Regions from separate parts of the Homo sapiens genome. Here region 2 is linked to region 1. Evidence: fine-mapped QTL for protein levels in blood plasma. A gene starts in region 1. The other region holds a variant in brackets. All regions are shown on one strand. Distances are between the middles of the regions. Region 1 holds the start of GMPR (guanosine monophosphate reductase). Region 2 overlaps GMPR (guanosine monophosphate reductase).

The links. A credible set is the group of variants that fine-mapping cannot tell apart. PIP is the posterior inclusion probability: the model's chance that the variant is causal. Protein levels are from antibody-based Olink assays in UK Biobank. Linkage for the fine-mapping came from a reference panel and not from the study's own genotypes, which makes the PIPs less certain.
Region 2: its variant is the best candidate, but not a certain one, in a credible set for the plasma level of the GMPR protein (UK Biobank, PIP 0.85). The variant lies in the coding sequence of GMPR. If it changes the protein, the assay may bind it differently, which can mimic a change of level.

Annotation. Positions count from the first base shown.
Region 1 is chr6:16,233,069-16,242,962 of GRCh38, reverse strand. It overlaps GMPR (guanosine monophosphate reductase), which reads right to left and starts at 4,376. Exons shown (of 9, transcript NM_006877.4): 1 at 4,183-4,376. The coding sequence starts at 4,269. RefSeq lists silencers at 4,274-4,373, 4,494-4,593.
Region 2 is chr6:16,287,213-16,295,212 of GRCh38, reverse strand. It overlaps GMPR (guanosine monophosphate reductase), which reads right to left. Exons shown (of 9, transcript NM_006877.4): 8 at 4,592-4,751; 9 at 1-207. The coding sequence ends at 27. Among named protein-coding and RNA genes, the nearest start is that of GMPR, 53 kb to the right of the region's middle. The variant A/T (reference allele first, on the strand shown) is at 4,683.

The sequences.
Region 1 (9,894 bases):
TAGTCCAATATGACTGATGTTCTTATAAAAAGGATAAATTTCAGGGCACATAATCCCAGCACTTTAAGAGGCCAAGGCAGGCGAATCACCTGAGGTCGAGAGTTCAAGACCAGCCTGACCAACATGGAGAAACCCTGTCTCTACTAAAAATACAAAATTAGTTGGACGTGGTGGTGCATGCCTATAATCCCAGTTACTCGGGAGGCTGAGGCAGGAGAATTGCTTGAACCTGGGAGGCGGAGGTTGCGGTGAGACAAGATCACGCCATTGTACTCCAGCCTGGGCAACAAGAGCGAAACTCCTTCTCAAAAAAAATAAATAAAAAATAAAATAAAAAGGAGAAATTTGGACACAGATGCACACATAGGGAGAACCTCATGTGGAGATGAAGGCAGAGATTGGGGACAACTGTCAGCAAACCAGCAGAAGCTGGGAGAAGGGCAAGAAACAGAATCTCCCTCCCAGCCCTCAGAAGGAATCAACCCTGCCAACATCTTGGACTGGGACTGCTACCTTCCAGAACTGTAAGATAATAAATTCTTGTTACTTAAGCCACCAAGTATGTGGTCCTCAGTTACAGCAGCCCCAGGAAACCAGCATACAGGCAAAGGTTAAAAAAAAAAAAAAAAAGTAATTAGTGACAGAGCTTGGACTAAAACACAGGTATCCTTCCTCCCAGCCACTCTGCCATGTTCTCATCCCCCTCAGGCCAACCAGTAGCAGACGGTGAAAGCTAGACCAGAACTCTTCTCACGGGACTGCTGGGGAAAAAACTGCTATGAAGTTTTAAGCAGACTGAACATCTGTTGTGTCTTCTCTGTCCTTAAACAAAATGAGTAATTTGCTGCGATTCTCTTCAATGCCTGATAATTTATTAATAAGTTTTTTAGGGGTTTATTTTTTGTTTTTGTTTTAATTCTTATCAGCTGGGTGCAGTGGCTCACACCTGTAATCCCGGCACTTTGGGAGTCTGAGGCAGGCAGATCACCTGAAGTCAAGAGTTCAAGACCAGCCTGGCCAACACGGTGAAACCCCATCTCTACTAAAAATACAAAAATTAGCAGAGCGTGGTAGGTGCCTGTAATCCCAGCTTCTCGGGAGCCTGAGGAAGGAGAATCGCTTGAACCCAGGAGGCGGAGGTTGCAGCGAGCCAAGATCACACCACTGCACTCCAGCCTGGGTGACAGAGTGAGACTCCGTCTCTAAATAAATAAATAAATAAGTACATTCTTACTAGCTTAAGGACTAGAGTAGAATGTTAGAGCCAGAAATGGGTACTAAGGAAGAAAACACTCAGGGAGAATGCAGGCTCCCCAGCGTAACAGATGAAAACAAAGGTCTTGTCTCAATCCACAAACTCATCACTTCTCAGAAAAAGATTATCCAAATGTCCCCACATGACCCTGTGGCGCTTTATTCTTCCATGCCAGGGGCTGGACATTTGAGAGATGAATGCCTCCCTGGAGAATCCAGGCGAAGGCCACCTGGGCCACTGCTACCTGTATTCTTTGCCTCTCAGAGGTGACCTCAGATTCATCTCATTCATGTTCATTTATGGAAGGCTGGTGGAAATGTCCTTGCAGGAGTCCTGAAGCTTCTGAGGGGGAGATCACTCTTACTGTCCGTTTCCTGCTATAGCCTGATGATCCATTGCTGGGCCTGGCTCTTAGCAAAACTGTCACGAGGATAAGCCCATCATCAGCTGTCAAAACCCTCCTCCCTCAGCCAGACTCTACTCCCAGGGTGTACGTTCTCTTTCCTGGCTCTGTACAAATCTGCTGTTAGGCTCAATGTCGGTCATCTACCCTTCAGTTTCCAATTTGCCTCCAGATATTACTTCTGCCAGGATGCACATATTTTAAGCTTCTGATTGTGCAAGGAAAAGTTTTTATCTGCCTGTGAAAAATTTCAGGCATCAACAAGCAAACTGAGAAAACATTGAGAGGGGATTAGGGAGGCCTAACTAGATCCCTCAACGCCACCGAGGCAAGTAAAGTCAGATCATGGGGGTGGCCAGCCAGGCAGCAGCCTCACGCATCAGGGAGCTAAACCATCACGGCAACCGATTAGAAAGGCAATGCTGGTTAACCTGAGTCTCCAGGCCCGTGGCTGGCAAACTCCCACGAACATAAAAATACAAAAGAGACTCCTCAAGGGCACTGAGTTCTCACTGCAATGTGTACATGAAGATTGCAAAGATGCTATCCCAAACTGGAACATTAGTTACAATCTGCCCAAATTATGAAGCCAAGTGTTGCATGACATTGTCGCATGATGTGATAGTATTCCCCGAGAAGGAGTAATTCATTCTATTACATAAATTTCATTTTAGCTTTAGAGACAGGGTTGTCCAGGCTGAAGTGCAGTGGCACCATCATAGCTCACTGTAACCTCCAGCTCCTGGGCTCAAGCCATCCTCCCGCCTCAGCCTTCCAAGTAGCTGGGACTACAGGTGAGCACCACTGCCCTAATTTTTTAAATTTTTGTTGTAATCTCCAGCTCGTGGGCTCAAGCCATCCTCCCGCCTCAGCCTTCCAAATAGCTGGGACTAGAGGTGTGCACAACTGCCCTGGCTGATTTTTTAAATTTTTGTAGAGCTGAGGTCTTGCTTTGTTGCCTAGGCTGGCCTCGAACTCCTGGCCTCAAGCAATCCTTCCACCTCAGGTTCCTAAAGTGCTGGGATTACAGGTGTGAGCTACTGTGCCTGGCCCTATTACATTAATGTTCAATATTTTACCTTCTCAACATGTTTTCTGGTTCAGAAAATAGGTATATCTTTGTTTTGAACATCCAATTTTCTGAAAAATGAGTTTCTCTCTTCTAAATACATTTTGAATATTTAAAGAATATTGAGGCCACCAAATTATTAGCACATCCAGAATCCCCCTATTTCATCTTGGTCTTGCCTTAGGAATTGGCTACAGCTCATGCTTCCAGAGGCCCAGGCCTGCCCTCCAAACTGTTTTTGTTCCAAGAGAGGCCCCCTCTTTAGCACCTGAAAGGTCATGAGGGACAGGCACAGGGTCACCCAATCTGGGGCGATAAGTTTTAATCATTCCTCCCCTACGTCCTCCAGTCCTGCCGGGCTCCAAACCAGCCAATGCTGCTGCTTACAGAAGGCCACTTGGTTTAGTCATTGGCTAACGCGGAGGCTTCCCCAATCCAAGCAAGCCCTCGGCTGGCAGCCCCAGGCACTGCAGTTAGGCCTGGCACCGGAGTGGGCAGCGGACTTCTTTGCTGAGGGGATTTATTTATGGTCTTGTTTGTGGAGCTGAGTGGACGGAGCTGTGCAGGTTGGCCCAGCCTCCTCGTGTTTACTCCTTCAGCCCCAGCCTTCAACCGTGTCCGGTTTCCTCACCTTCCTCTCCAGCTCTCAGCAAAGCCAGTCACCAGCGCACACCACCCCGGGGCACTCTGCCTTTCAGGCAACTAGTTTATCCTTCAGGGACTGGCCTCCCTTCCCCCAGCCTCAGGCTATTTCCAGTCCGGTCTCCACCTGTTCCTTAGGATTTGAGGACATCCAGGCAGAACCAGGGAAATGCCCGAGGCTTCCAATTCGCCCCCACCTCTCTCACCCCAAAGCTTTCGAAACTCTTCTCCAGGGCTAGGCTGGGACCGCGGGCTGTCCAGTACCGCTGAGTCCCCAAGCCCCACTGCCAGCAAGGCCGCCAAACTCAGAAAGGAAACCCTGAACTTGTGCCCTGGGTTCTGGTTTTTCAGACGCGTTCACGAAGTTCCACCGCTGGACCCGAAGCGAAAGCAGCAGCAATTATCAGCACTAGGAGACGCAGCCAAAAATCACCGGGATCTGCAGTTGTTTTTCTCGTCCTCTCTCCCCTAGCTCCAGTTTCCTTTTCTTGCTATAAGCGCCCTCGTACCCCTATTCCTTCTAAACCAACTGGCCACTGGATCTCGCTCATCTGTGGTCGAGTTTCACTGTGAACTTCCCCTAGGCCACCCAACGGGACCGACGTGTAGAGAATTTCATGGGCCCCCGTATCACCGCCCTTAAAGACACCTCACGTCCTGGCAGGTGCTGGGGCGCGGGAACGGGGGCGCAGCGCCCCAGTCTCAAACACCAAAGCAGGCAGGGTAACCCGGTGCCACCCCCTTCCACCCACTTGCCCCGCGCCACCCGGAAAAAAAAATCCCACCCCACTGCGACTTCCGAACGTCCCCCACCTCGGCTCGGCTCTTGAGGCTGCTCCGCTTAGGTCGGAGCAGGACATCCTTGAAGTCGAGCTTGAGGTCCGCATCTATGCGGGGCATGGTGCAGCGGCTCCTGGCTGCGGCGGCGGCGACGGCGGGGCGGGGGCGCCTGCGCGGGGCGGCGCGGGGAGCGCCGGGGCTGCTGTGCCGCGGCCGGGAGCTGGCGTGGGCCGGGTGCGCACGCCGCGGTCTTAAACACGCCCCGCCGACCCGCGGTCACGCTTGGCCCGCCCCGGGCACCGCCTCCGCCTCAGGCAGGGGTTGAGAGGCAGACTGGTTAGGGACAGATTGGCGGCGAAGCCCTTCCTCCTCGCGCCGCCGCCCCCGTCCTTCCCCCTCAGGTGTACAGCCCGTGGCAGTGACCGAATGGGGACGGGGGAGGGAAATGCGCACCGTTCTGTTTGTCCCCAGGGTCCCCGATGGAGAGGGGACTTAGCGTGTGGCTGCCTTATCCAAGGGAAAAGTCGCTCCCTGAGAGCTTTTACTTTTTTTTTTTTTTTTTTGAGACAGTCTCACTGTCGCTCAGGCTGGAGTGAGTGGCGCTATCGCCGCTCATCGCAGCCTCGACTTCCTGGGCTCAAACGATTCTCATGCCTCAGCCTCCTCGAGTACAGGCGCACGCCGCCACACCCAGCTTATTTTAAAAATTATTTCCTAGAGGCGGGGTTTCACCATATTGCCCAAGCTGGTCTCGAGCCCCTGACCTCAAGTGATCCGCCTGCCTCGGCCTCCCAAAGTGCTGGGATTACAGGCGTGAGCCACCGTGCCCGGCGGATTCTCCTTTTTTAAAATTCAAGCCCGGTGTGCTCACCCAGTGTTGAGGAGCACGTCTCTCACTTGCCAAAGAACCAGAAACCCCAGGGAGGTTGTATAGAATTAAGGAAAAGAACGTGGGCAGTTAACTGTTTAGCTGTACTGGGATTGTGGAGGCCATGATTCCCTTTGGACTTGTTGTTAAGAGACAAGGTCTCACTGTGTTGCCCAGGCTGGTCTTGAACTACTGGGTTCAAGCAATCCTCCCGCCTCAGCTTCCCAGTGTTGGGACTACTGGCGTGAGCCACTGCGCCCAGCCTGGATTTCAGGATTTTTGTTTAAGAAAAACAGTGAGGTCTGTAGTCGACGCAGATCCTGAGATTTGAGGAGCCTGAGTCCCCTCTGAGGGTTACCAGTGATGTGAGTTCGAGGGGTTACCAGTGATGTGAGTTCATTGATTCACTTATTGACCTTACCGACCTTTTATTATACATTTGAAATGTGCTGCCGGGCTTCATGCATCATCTCATTCACTCTCAGAACAACCCAATGAAGAAAGAGCCATTTCACAGATAAGGAAAAACGAGGCTTCTATAAATGAAATAACTTGCCTAAGGCCGCAGAAAAATTCAATATAAATTTCTCAGTCCTTAAAACTTGCTACAACTATTCACTGAAGCTGCTTTTGTCCTGGAACATCTCTGCCTGAGTTTGAAACCTGGTTCCACCACTGTCTAGCTAGGTGACCTTAGGGGAGTCAATTTCTCTAAGTCTCAGTTTTCTCATAAAAGGGGTGGGGGCAGGAGGGGGGGTTAACCCTATCTCCTCCCTGGTTTTTGTGAGAATTAAAGTGTGTGTGTTTATGTAAGCACAATGTCTGTCCCATAGTAGTTGCTCAATGCATGGTAGTTACAGATTTGTAGTCACATGTTACATTATGTGCATTGTGTTTGTATTTTCAAACTAGAATGCTAACTGCACAAAGGCAAGAATCATCTTTCATTCTCTTCCATTTTTCTGCAGCCTCGAACTGAGCTAGCAACTGTTCTCCTTGAGCTAGCATGTGATAAGGCTGACCATAAAAGATACATCACAATATTCAATTTAACACAAATGTCTGAAGATGATAAAGGTCTCAGCCCATCCCACATGGTTTCATTAGCTATACCCCAAAGGAAGTTCATGAAGTTTCAGGGAAGGAAATGAAACTTATCAGAGAGAATGAAAGTAGCCACAATTAGTCCAGCCCATGCAATGTTTATAACCCTTGACGAATTCTTGGGAGCTGGCCAGATGTGCTGCTTATTTGTGAAGTACGGAAAGGAAACCTAATTCTGATCTTTTAAAGATTAAATAGAGGTAAAATATAATTACTAGATGGTATGATTATTTTTAAATTATTATCCTTAAAGGGAAGAGAAACTGACCTTGTTAAGCATCTGCCAGCGTGGATGAGGGCTTTATTCATTGTTTCATACATGGTCTTAAAGGAGAAGCTTCTGTAGGTTGTCCTTGCTCTTTCCCTCTGGTTCTCTTTCTTTCTGGCTAGCCCTCCTTTTATTAGAATAGACAGAGAAGTTCATTTTACACATTCCATTCCCTCTCCCTCTGGAACATTCCTCTATAACTGCCCTCTTCTCTGACACAAAATCATACTCCTGTTAGAGTCAGCCTGAGTCCCTGATTCTTCTAAAACCGGCTTTGCAAAAATTATGACAGTGAGAAAAATCTGACATAGGAAAATGACAACAGTGAAAGAAATCTGACCTAACTGACTCCATCTTGCTTTTAACCGCCAAGGTGTCCTTGTTCATTCCTGGGTGTAGGTTGAACTAACTATGGGAGGAATTGAGTTTATAGTTTAACTTTGAAACAAAGATGAGAACAGCACGTTCCCAAAACAAACCCCCTCCTGGCTTGGGGACCAGCGCACCTTTGTAAAACTAACAAAGTAGCTACAGATTACAAATCATGGCTCAGGCATCATGTAGCCAGAGGCCATAAGATTCCCAACCTCCCCAGTTGCTCCTATGAATAACATCACTATTGAAAACCTAAGATTGGTGTTAGAGATATGTTTCAGTCAGTCCCCCCATTCTGATGGACCAGCTGGCACCACCCTGACCAGTAAACTGGCTCAGCTAGTTCTGTGATCCCACTCGGAAACGGAAGACAGCAAGGAAAACCCACTTCAACAGCCTATTATTTCATCCCTTACCTGACCAATCAGCATTCCCCACTCCCTAGTTCCTGCCCACCAAATTATCCTTAAAAAAGCCTGGTCTCTGAATTTTTGGGGAGACTGATTTGAGCAATAAAACTCCAGTCTCCTGTTAGCTGGCTCTGCATTTATTAAACTCTTTCTGTATTGCAGTAATGCTGTCTCAGTAAATTGGCTCTATCTATGCAGCAGGCAAGAAGAACACATAGGGCAGTTCCACTCCCACACCAACTGAGACTCCTTTCAACATCCTCTGCTTCTCATTACTCTAATACAACAATAATAGTTTCCCATCAGTACAATGACTTTATGTTAAAGTTTTCACTGTCTAGACAAAGCCATAAGTGATATCCAGAGTTCAATTTATTAACATTTTATTATGGGAGGGGAGGGTTATCCCCAAAATTACATGGGAAGATAACCTCCAAAATTATGTGGGATAAATTCCACTTGGTCACAGTGCATAATCCTTTTTTGTATTGATGGATCCTATTTGCTAATATTTTGTTAAGGATTTGTGCATCTGAGCTTATAAGGGACATTACTCTGTAGTTTTCTTTTCTTTTGATGCCTTTATCAGGGTAATAGTGGCCTCATAGAATTAGTTGGGAAATGTTCCACGCTCTGTTTTCTGAAAGAGCTTGTGTAGGCTTGGGATTAGTTCTTTAAATATTTAATAGAATTAACCAGTGAACTAAAATTATGTGAAGTGATAAAATGGTTTATTTTTAGTAAATAAGTATCTCTCAAAACCCAGAAATAAAGTTAAGTATTAAAGGCTTTTTGATAATTCAGAATTATAGTATTTAATATTAAGGGATAAGAGCAAATCTGGAGGCATCACACTACCTGATTTCAAACTATACTATAAGGCCATAGTCACCAAAACAGCATGGTGCTGGTACTGGTATAAAAATGGGCACATAGACCAGCGGAAAACAATAAAGAACCCAGAAATAAACCTACATACCTACAGCCAATTGATCTTCAACAAAGCAAACTAAAACATGAAGTGGAAAAAGGACACCCTTTTCAACAAATGGTGCTGGGATAATTGGCTAGTCACATGTAGGAGAATGAAACTGGATCCTCATCTCTCACCTTATACAAAAATCAACTCAACATGGATTAAGGGGCCGGGTGAGGTGGCTCATGCCTGTAATCCCAACACTTAGGGAGGCTGAGGCAGGCAGATCATCTGAGGTCAGGAGTTTGAGACTAGCCTGGCCAACATGGTGCAACCCTGTCCCCACTAAAAATACAAAAATTAGCTGGGCATGGTGACACCGGTCTGTAGTCCCAGGTACTCGGGAAGCTGAGGTGGGAGAATTGCTTGAACCCGGGAGATGGAGTTTGCAGTGAGCCGAGATTGGGCCACTGCACTCCAGCCTGGGCGACAGTGTGAGACTCCATCTCAAAAAAAGAAGAAGAAGGTGGATTAAGAACTTAAACCTAAGACCTGAAACTATAAAAATTATAGAAGATAACATTGGAAAAACCCTTCTAGACATTGGCAAGGATTTCGTGACCAAGAACCCAAAGCAAATGCAATAAAAAAAAAAGATAAATAGCTGGGACCTAATTAAACTAAAGAGCATGGCAAAGGGAACAGTGAGCAGAGTAAACCGACAACCCACAGAGTGGGAGAAAATTCACAATCTATACATCTGACAATGGACTAACATCCAGAATCTACAACAAACTCAAACAAATCAGTAAGAAAAAGACAATCCCATCAAAAAGTGGGCTAAGGGCATGAATAGACAATTCTCAAAAGAAGATATACAAATGGACAACGAACACACAAAAAAATGCTTAACATCACTAATGATGGGGGAAATGCAAATCAAAACCACAATGCGGTACCACCTTATTCCTGCAAGAATGGCCATACTCAAAAAATCAAAAAACATTAGGTGTTGGTGGCTGGGCACGGTGGCTTGCACCTGTAATCCCAGCACTTTGGAAGGCCAAGGCAGGTGGATCCAGACCATCCTGGCTAACACAGTGAAACCCCATCTCTACTAAAAATACAAAAATTAGCCGGGCGTGGTGGCACGTGCCTGTAGTCTCAGCTACTCGGGAGGCTGAGGCAGAAGAATTGCTTGAACCCGGAAGGCAGAGGTTACAGTGAGCAGAGATCACGTCACTGCACTTCAGCCTGGGTGACAGAGTCAGACTCCATCCTAAAAAGAAAAATGAAAAAAAAAAAAAAAACAATAGATGTTGGTGTGGATGCGGTGAACATGAAACACTTCTACACTGCTGGTGGGAATATAAACTAGTACAACCACTATGGAAAACAGTGTGGAGATTCCTTAAATAATTAAAAGCAGAACTACTATTTGATCCAGCAATCCCACTACTAGATATCTACCCAGAGGAAAATAAATTATTCGAAAAAGATATTTGCACACACGTTTATAGCAGCACAATTCACAATTGCAAAAAGTGGGCTAAGGGCATGAATAGACAACCTACACTACAACCTCCACCTCTCGGGCTCAAATGATTTTCCTGCCTCAGCCTCTGGAGTAGCTGGAACTACAGGTGTGCTCCACCATGCCCGGCTAATTTTTGTATTTTTAGTAGAGACGGGGTTTCACCATGTTGGCCAGGATGGTCTTGATCTCTTGACCTCGTGATCCGCCTGCCTCGGCCTCCCAAAGTGCTGGGATTACAGGTGTGAGCCTCCGCACCTGGCCAGCCAG
Region 2 (8,000 bases), 53 kb before region 1:
AGCCAGACGCTGCTTTGTCCCCAGGGTTAGCTGAACACGGTGTTGTGCTGCTGGGTCACCCGGATGAATGTTGCCCTCCTGCTGAGCTCCTTGAGTTTGGCGGCCCCCACGTAGGTGCACGTGGACCTCAGTCCCCCGAGAATATCCAGGATAGTGTTTTCCACATCTCCTTTGTAAGGAACTTCCACAGTCTTACCCTCAGAGGCTCTGGAAGACGATAGAAGTTTTCTTTTTATCTAGTTTCCCGCCCCACCTTAAGAGCCCAATTAGAATTACTCCCAGCTCCAGCACTTTCTGTAGCCCCCAAGGCACTCAGAAAACCAGACCCCACCCTCTGACCCCATCCCCACATTTCTACCAAGTGCCAAGATGATCACCAGCATCTCAGATGAACACATTCCTCCCGCCCAAAGGGCACGGGCTCATTGCTGGCTGCCCTGCATGTTGCGGAGAGGAAAGTCCTGGTGAGCAGCGCTTGAAGGAGTCAGGGACCCATAACACCCTGCTTGGTGCCATTCTCTCCAGCAACGTGCTCCCCTCTGCTGCTAACAGAAACCACCTTTACCTTTCTATTCTACCTCAACATGCACACCAACTTCCCAACAACCAGGAGCCCAAAATGCCCCCAGAATGGCCCTGGCCGATTCCCCCCTGGAAACAGCCTCCTGTCCTCCTACGTCAACAACAGGAAAAGTCCAGAGCTTCACCTCCCGCCTGTCTGGTCTAAGATCAGAAATCAAGTGTCTTCAAGGGGGACGACCAGGACGAGGAGGACATAAAATGGATAGCGCAGGTCCTACCAGCTTACGTGGAAATCACCAGCAAGGTGATTTCATTGAAGTGGCTCTGTTTTGATAGCCTGCCTGTCTTTCTGCTTTGCTGGGTACACTGGCCACCCCCAGTTCGACTCCCTGTTCTCTTACAGGTCACTACACCTATCACCCTGCACATGTGTGGGTCCAAGCAAGGTGGAATCAGAGGAGAACCAAGACCTGTCTTAGCACCAGAGGCTTCCAGGCTTTGGATAGCAACGTTCACATTTTCAGAGGAGTATTTAGAAACTCAAGTCTGGCCTATGGCATGAACACTAAGCAACATTTCACTGTCCCCACTGAGCCCATGTCCCTCTCTTCACAAAGCCACCAGGTAACACTGCTTGATTGTTACTTGGGTAACACAGGTCATGTCCCCTCACTGCAAAATGGGGATGTGGTCCAGACACATGTATATATTACCAGAATATGTGTATATTACACATGTGTATATTACCAGATGTGTGTATTACCAGAAGGAAATCTGAAATCTAGGCAAAACTCTAGCTCTCATCTAAGGGCCATGCAAGTTCTAACAAGTACCCAAATTCTGGAACTTTCTGTAGCTGTTCTTTTCAGCTGGAAAAAGAGCATCTTTTTTTGAGATGGAGTTTTGCCTTTGTCACCCAGACTGGAGTGCAATGGTGCAATCTCAGCTCACTGCAACCTCTGCCTCCTGGGTTCAAGCAATTCTCCTGCCTCAGCCTCCTGAGTAGCTGGGATTACAGGTGCCTGCCACCACTCCCAGCTAATTTTAGTATTTTTAGTAGAGATGGGGTTTCACCATGTTGGCCAGGCTGGTCTCGAACTCCTGGCCTTAGGTGATCCACCTGCCTTGAAGAGCATCTCTTGACCAGACATTCATTATCTAGAATTTCAAAAGGGGCTTAACTCTTGGTTGCTGAACAGGCAGGACTACCCTTGGGTAAAATCCAGCTACTTAAACCATCAGCCGGTTTAGAGCCCCAAGCTCAGGAAGCCAGTCATTGGCCATACCCAGGATGGTTCAGGGCTCAGCACTCCGTGACCCCAGACAGGCGTCTGTACACTTGTGCCTGCAATTACTGACATTTCATTTTCGTAAGATATTTCCATGGCCTTCCTGGGGCTTCTTGGAAATTTCTAGATTCTCACTGTTGCTTCTCTGCTAAGTGGTGGTGTCGCCTTTTACAAATTCCTTTTTTGCTGATGCTTAAGTCTGCTCATCCGTAAAATGAAGGTACTTTGCCTCCCGGGCACAGCGTGAGAATGAAATAATGATTGGGAAAGAACCAGCAATGTGTACATAACTGTGCCATAAGTAATTTGTCAAAGTCGGGAAGCATTCTCATGACAAGATCATGGTCACGGGCTGAAAACTAAGAGAGAGAGAGAGAGAGAGAGACTCAGACAGAGGTAAGACAGGTGCAGCCGCAAGGCTCAGGCTGAAGCCTTTGGATTAAGGTTCTAATTTCCTCAGCAATTTCCTTCCCTGTTAAAGATTTGAATCCACTTTCAGAACTGAGTCTTGCTACTGCTGAATCTTTTTTTTTCTATTATACCTAAACCCTGCTGAAATTACAGAAGACGTTTTTTCTTTCAGCTCTTTGGTTTCTGTTTGTGCCATAGCCTGCTCTGGTCTTCTTGATTCTATAATTTTTTAAAGAACCCAAAACAGATGCAGCCACGAGGGTGAAAAAGGTACTCCAGGCAAAGCACCTAGCTGCTGCTCACCCATGAAAGCTCCACTTACATTCTGGCACAGAGGACACATGTGCAGGCCCTTGGATGATGACAACAGTTGCTGGTAAAGCACGAAGCTTCTTGAACATAGGTCCAGCTTAGTGCCTCCTCCTTACCCAACCATGCAACCTCCTCCTCTATCAGGGACCGCTTGGGGGAAAGAGGGCCTCGGGGGCTACCTGGAAGGAGTGAATCCCTCATTTCTGATTGGTGCAGTCCCCATCGATCTTTCCCATCCTGCTTTTCCCATACTATAATATCTTTATTGGGGTTCACCACCAAGAGAAAGAGACTTGAGGAGAATGAGAACTGAAGTAAGTCCGCTAGAACCCCACGGATGAATAGAACTCTGGTAGAATACACCCCACTCCCCCCAATCCCCCCACCTACAAATCTCAGTGGAGTTCTGAGATTTTGCTGCTAGCTTGGTATGAACCTTATATAATACATCTGAATCCCAGGTCCTCAAAATGACCCTCTGGGTGTGGAATGAGTGGTAGGAAATAAAGGGTGTCAGTCAGGGAGGGCTTAGGTTTCCACTCCAGCACCGGATAGAGTCTGAAAATTGGAGGGAGAAGCCTGAACTTTCCTGGAAAAAGGCAACCAGCCGATTCACAGGCAACTTCCCTCTGCAGATGGAGAACCTTTGCTCCTGTACCCATTTTGTATAGCTTGTCATCGGCGCTAACCCTGATGAGAGTAACAGTAGGCTCTATGGAGCAGGGTGAGGCAGCGAGTATACTGTCATCAGGTTCTTTTTTTTTTTTTTTGGCAGGGTATCACTCTGTTGCCCAGGCTGGAGCACAGTGGCACGATCATAGCTCACTGCAGCCTCCAACTCCTGGGCTTAAGCCATCTTCCTGCCTCAGCCTCCTGAGCTGCTGGGAGTACAGTCATGTGACACCACACCCAGCTAATTTTTAATTTTTTTGTAGAGACAGGGTCTTGCTATGTTGCCTAGGCTCATCTGGAACTCCCGGTCTCAAGCAGTCCTCCAACCTTGGCTGCTGGAAGCACTGGGATTACAAGCATGAGCCACTGTGCCTGGCCCCATCATCAGGTTCTTAAAACACACATGCAGACAGTTAAAATGGAAGGGAATCAGGAAAAGACCCAGGTGTCTTTGGAGACCATGGATTAAAAACATGCATCAGGAGCCAGGTGCGGTGGCTCATGCCTATAATCCCAGCACTTTGGGAGGTCGAGGTGGGTGGATCACTGGAAGTCAGGAGTTCGAGACCAGCCTGGCCAACATGACGAAACCCCATCTTTACTAAAAATACAAAAAATAGCTGGACATGATGGGGGGTACCTGTAATCCCAGTTATTCGGGAGGCTGAGGCAGGATAATCACTTGAACCCGGGAGGCAGAGGTTACAGTGAGCTGACATCACACCACTGCACTCCAGCCTGGGCGACAGAGCACGACTCCACCACAAAAAAATAAAAATAAAAAATAAAAAATAAACACACATCAGCAGAAGTAAGCCCCACTTCTACAGTGGATGACACAACTGAATGGCTGAAAATGCTGCTGTGTCGGCTCTCGGAGCCTGGAGGAAGGTGAGAAGCGGTATGAGCTGTATGCAGCATTCTTCAGGAAAGGCCTGGCCACCGTGCAGTGGTCTAGACCACACCTATGGCTTTCTGTGCAAGAGGAGAGCCATTCTTCAACTCAATCCTTTCAGCCTGAACTCTTCTCAAGCCAGAGATCTAAGCTTACAGGGATAGCTCAGCACAGGCTCTACTGGAAGGACAAGACAATAATTCCACCTACCCCCAGAGGTCTGAAGTATTCCCTTCAGGACTGGCACCCACTCACATATAACCCTGGTCACACTTCCAACCCATCACCAAACACTGCTGCTCTGTACTTGCTTTTGGGAACCCCAAACACTGCAAATGCTAACTGGATACAAATTAGGGGTCTTTAAAAAGAACCCCTTCCCACGGTACTTTAATATACACAGAGCTGCTATTCAGACCTGCTTCCATCCCATCTCCGTAAGAAAAGCAAGGCCAGGCCTCGAGGGTGCGCCCCGGGGTCACCTCCTCACCTGTACTCAGCAACTCCTCCTGCGTGCTTGTTCATGGCGGTGTCAGAGCTCATCCCGTAGAAGAGCTTGAGCTTCCGTCCGTTCCTCTCAA[A/T]CACTTCTCCAGCACACTCCGTATGACCCGAAAACATTCCTCCCAGCATGACAAAATCTGCTCCAGCTCCTAAATGCCAACGGTGGGGATGAAAGCGAGTAGCAGAGAAAACAGCTCAGGGGAAAAGGCTCTCAAAAAATCCCAGTGCTTGCCCAGTTCACCTCCCTCCCCGCCCAGCTATAGTCAAGAGAAAGGCTGGACCTCTCTCGCCTGTCTCCTCCTGGAAAAAGGGAGAAGGCTTCCATGCAGGGAGAAAGGGCCATGGGACACTGCGAGAAACAAATGCAGCCTACTGAAGGCTAGTGTCCCATATACTGGACCATGCTGAATGGCTTTTAATGGCTAACTACGACCACCTTCCTCAGATCTAACTCTCTTAGAATCACAGAAACATTAAGATTGGGGAGTATTCTGCCAGGCACAGTGGCTCAGCCCTGTAATCCTAGCACTTTGGGAGGCTGAGGCAGGTGAATCACTTGAGATCAGGAGTTCAAGACCAGCCTGGCCAACATGATAAAACCCCATTTCTACTAAAAATACAAAAATTAGCCGGAAATCGCTTGAACCCCGGAGGTGGAGGTTGCAGTGAGCCGAGATCATGCCACTGCACTCCAACCTGGGCAACAGAGGGAGACTCCGTCTCACAAAAAAAAAAAAAAAAAAAAAAAAAAAAAAAAAAAAATTGGGCAGTATCTTAGAAAGCAAGTTACCTAATCTTGTACTTAATGCTATGACTCCTCTATGATACCCCCTCAGGTGTCTGGTCTGTACTTGAAGCTCTCCACACTCTGACACTCCCTGTGCTTATACATCAGGAAAAAGCCTCAGAACAGACTGAAGCTCCTACACTAGACAGCTTCAAGGAAAGAAGTCCCCGTGTTATGGAAGTCGTCTAAAACTCCACCCGCACCATGCTGCTGCACATTAGATTTCCAGAGTACATATTCTGCCAGACTAATCACCGAATGACAGCACATTTCCAGGACAGGCACAGGAGACAGAGGTACTGAAGCTGCCTGTCTTTGTGGGCTATGCTGGAACAGGCCCAGGGCTGGTTCTATGTTGATCCAAAGTGCACAGCACATGATAGACGCTGAATGATTAGCTGTCAAAAAAGTAAAAACGTGGGAAAAAAAGTTATCATTCCCCATTTTGTTCATGGATCACTGTGCAGTGGGATTCTTCATTGCCTATTAACTAAGGAACTGCTACTGTGTTCGGAACTGGTGGGTTCTTGGTCTCACTGACTTCAAGAATGAAGCCATAGACTCTCACTGTGAGTGTAACAGCTCTATAAGGTGGCGCGGCTGAGGCTTTTTCCTTCTGGTGGGGTTGGGGTCTGCGCTAGCTCAAAAATGAAGCTATAGACCTTCCCGGCAAATAGCACAGCTCATAAAAGCAGTGTGGGCCTAAAGACCGAGCAGCAACAGAATCTATTGCAAAGAGCGAAACAACAAATCACCCTCCCAAAGAAAAGGAGCCAGAAGGGTTTGCCACTGCTGGCTCCGGCAGCCTGCTTTTATTCTCTTATCTGGCCCCACCCATATCCTGCTGATTGGTAGAGTGAGTGGTCTGTTTTGTCAGGGCGCTGATTGGTGTGTTTACAATCCCTGAGCTAGACACAAAGGTTCTCCACGTCCCCACCAGATTAGCTAGATACAGAGTGTGGATTGGTGCATTCACAAAACCTGAGCTAGACACAGGATGCTGGTTGGTGTGTTTACAAACCTTGAGCTAGATACAGAGTGCCCATTGGTGTATTTACAATCCCTGAGTTAGACATAAAGGTTCTCCACGTCCCCACCAGACTGAGGAGCCCAGCTGGCTTCATCCAGTGGATCCGCACTGGGGCTGCAGATGGAGCTGCCCACCAGTCCCACGCCCTGCGCCTGCACTCCTCAGCCCTTGCATGGTTGACGGGACTGGGGGCCTTGGAGCAGGGGGCGGCGCTCATTAGGGAGGCTCCCGCCGCACAGGAGCCCGTGGAGGGGGCGGGGAAGCTCAGCCATGGCGGGCGGCAGGTCCCGAGCCCTGCCCCGCAGGGAGGCAGCTAAGGCCCAGCCAGAAATCCAGCGCAGCGCCAGTGGGCTGGCACTGCTGGAGGACCCAGCACACCCTCCGCAGCTGCTGGCCCGGGTGCTAAGCCTCTCATTGCCTGAGGCCGGCAGGGCCAGCCGGCCGCTCCGAGTGCAGGGCCTGCCAAGCCCACACCCACCCGGAACTCCAGCTGGCCCGCAAGCGCCTCGCGCATCCTCGGTTGCCACTCGCGCCTCTCCCTCCACACCTCCCTTCAAGCTGAGGGAGCCGGCTCCGGCCTTGGCCAGCTCAGAAAGGGGCTCCCAGAGTGCAGAGACGGGCTGAAGGGCTCCTCAAGTGCTGCCAAAGTGGGAGCCCAGGCAGAGGAGGCGTGGACAGCAAGCGAGGGCTGTGAGGGCTGTCACCTCTCACTACAGCCTCCCCTGAGTAAGCCCTACTGAGGGTTTACCTTTAGAACAGAACAAGACAGTAGCAGGGCGCAGATGTATTAAGTAATAGGATGAAGGAGGAGGGGAGCCTGGCAAATCCTAATCAGGAGGAGGAAACATAGGAACCCCTGAAAGTGGCCCTGATGCCTTCAATTTGGTCATTTAAACATTGGCAGAGCACTCTGAGGTTTTCATTGGCGTTACAGTTCAGCATGACAGAAAGGCGAGCTTTTCTAGCACTCAGGGAAGCAAAGCACAACGCAACCTTCCTAAGTGGCAGCAACCTCTTAAGACCCTCCCCTTTCAGGGTTCCTAACACGAATGCTGACTCCCTGGTCCTCCTGCCATGATTTTAAGGAGGCAGAGGATAACTGGTGTCCAGCCAGGATTCTTGACAATTCAGGAGCACAGCACCTCTGCGGCAGCTGCAAAGGAGCAGATGTCAACAGCAGGAACGCAGAGCACAGACCCACTAAAGAATGCTTTGAGGGGGTTCCCAACCATTTTCATTTCGGGACACCCTTGCATCCTTCCCTGACAAGGTCCCTCTCGCTCCACTGAGTCTCGGCACAGGTACGGCCGCACTGACTGAGAGACAGTGGAGGAGGGAATGGCACCCAAAGGAGACTGAGCTGAGTGTGGTCCAAAGGCCAGGAACTGTGATCTACAAGGCACTTCTCAACGACCAGTCACTTTAAAGTGTGTTTGGCTCTCCCTCTGTACAGAGAGCATGTGTGAGGCAACACAAAAGAGTCCAAGATGGACCACCACCTGTATTAAGTAGATTCAGCTCAAAAACCAATCATAAAAATGCCCTTGGCCAATGATCCTTACAATAAAGGGTAAGTGACAG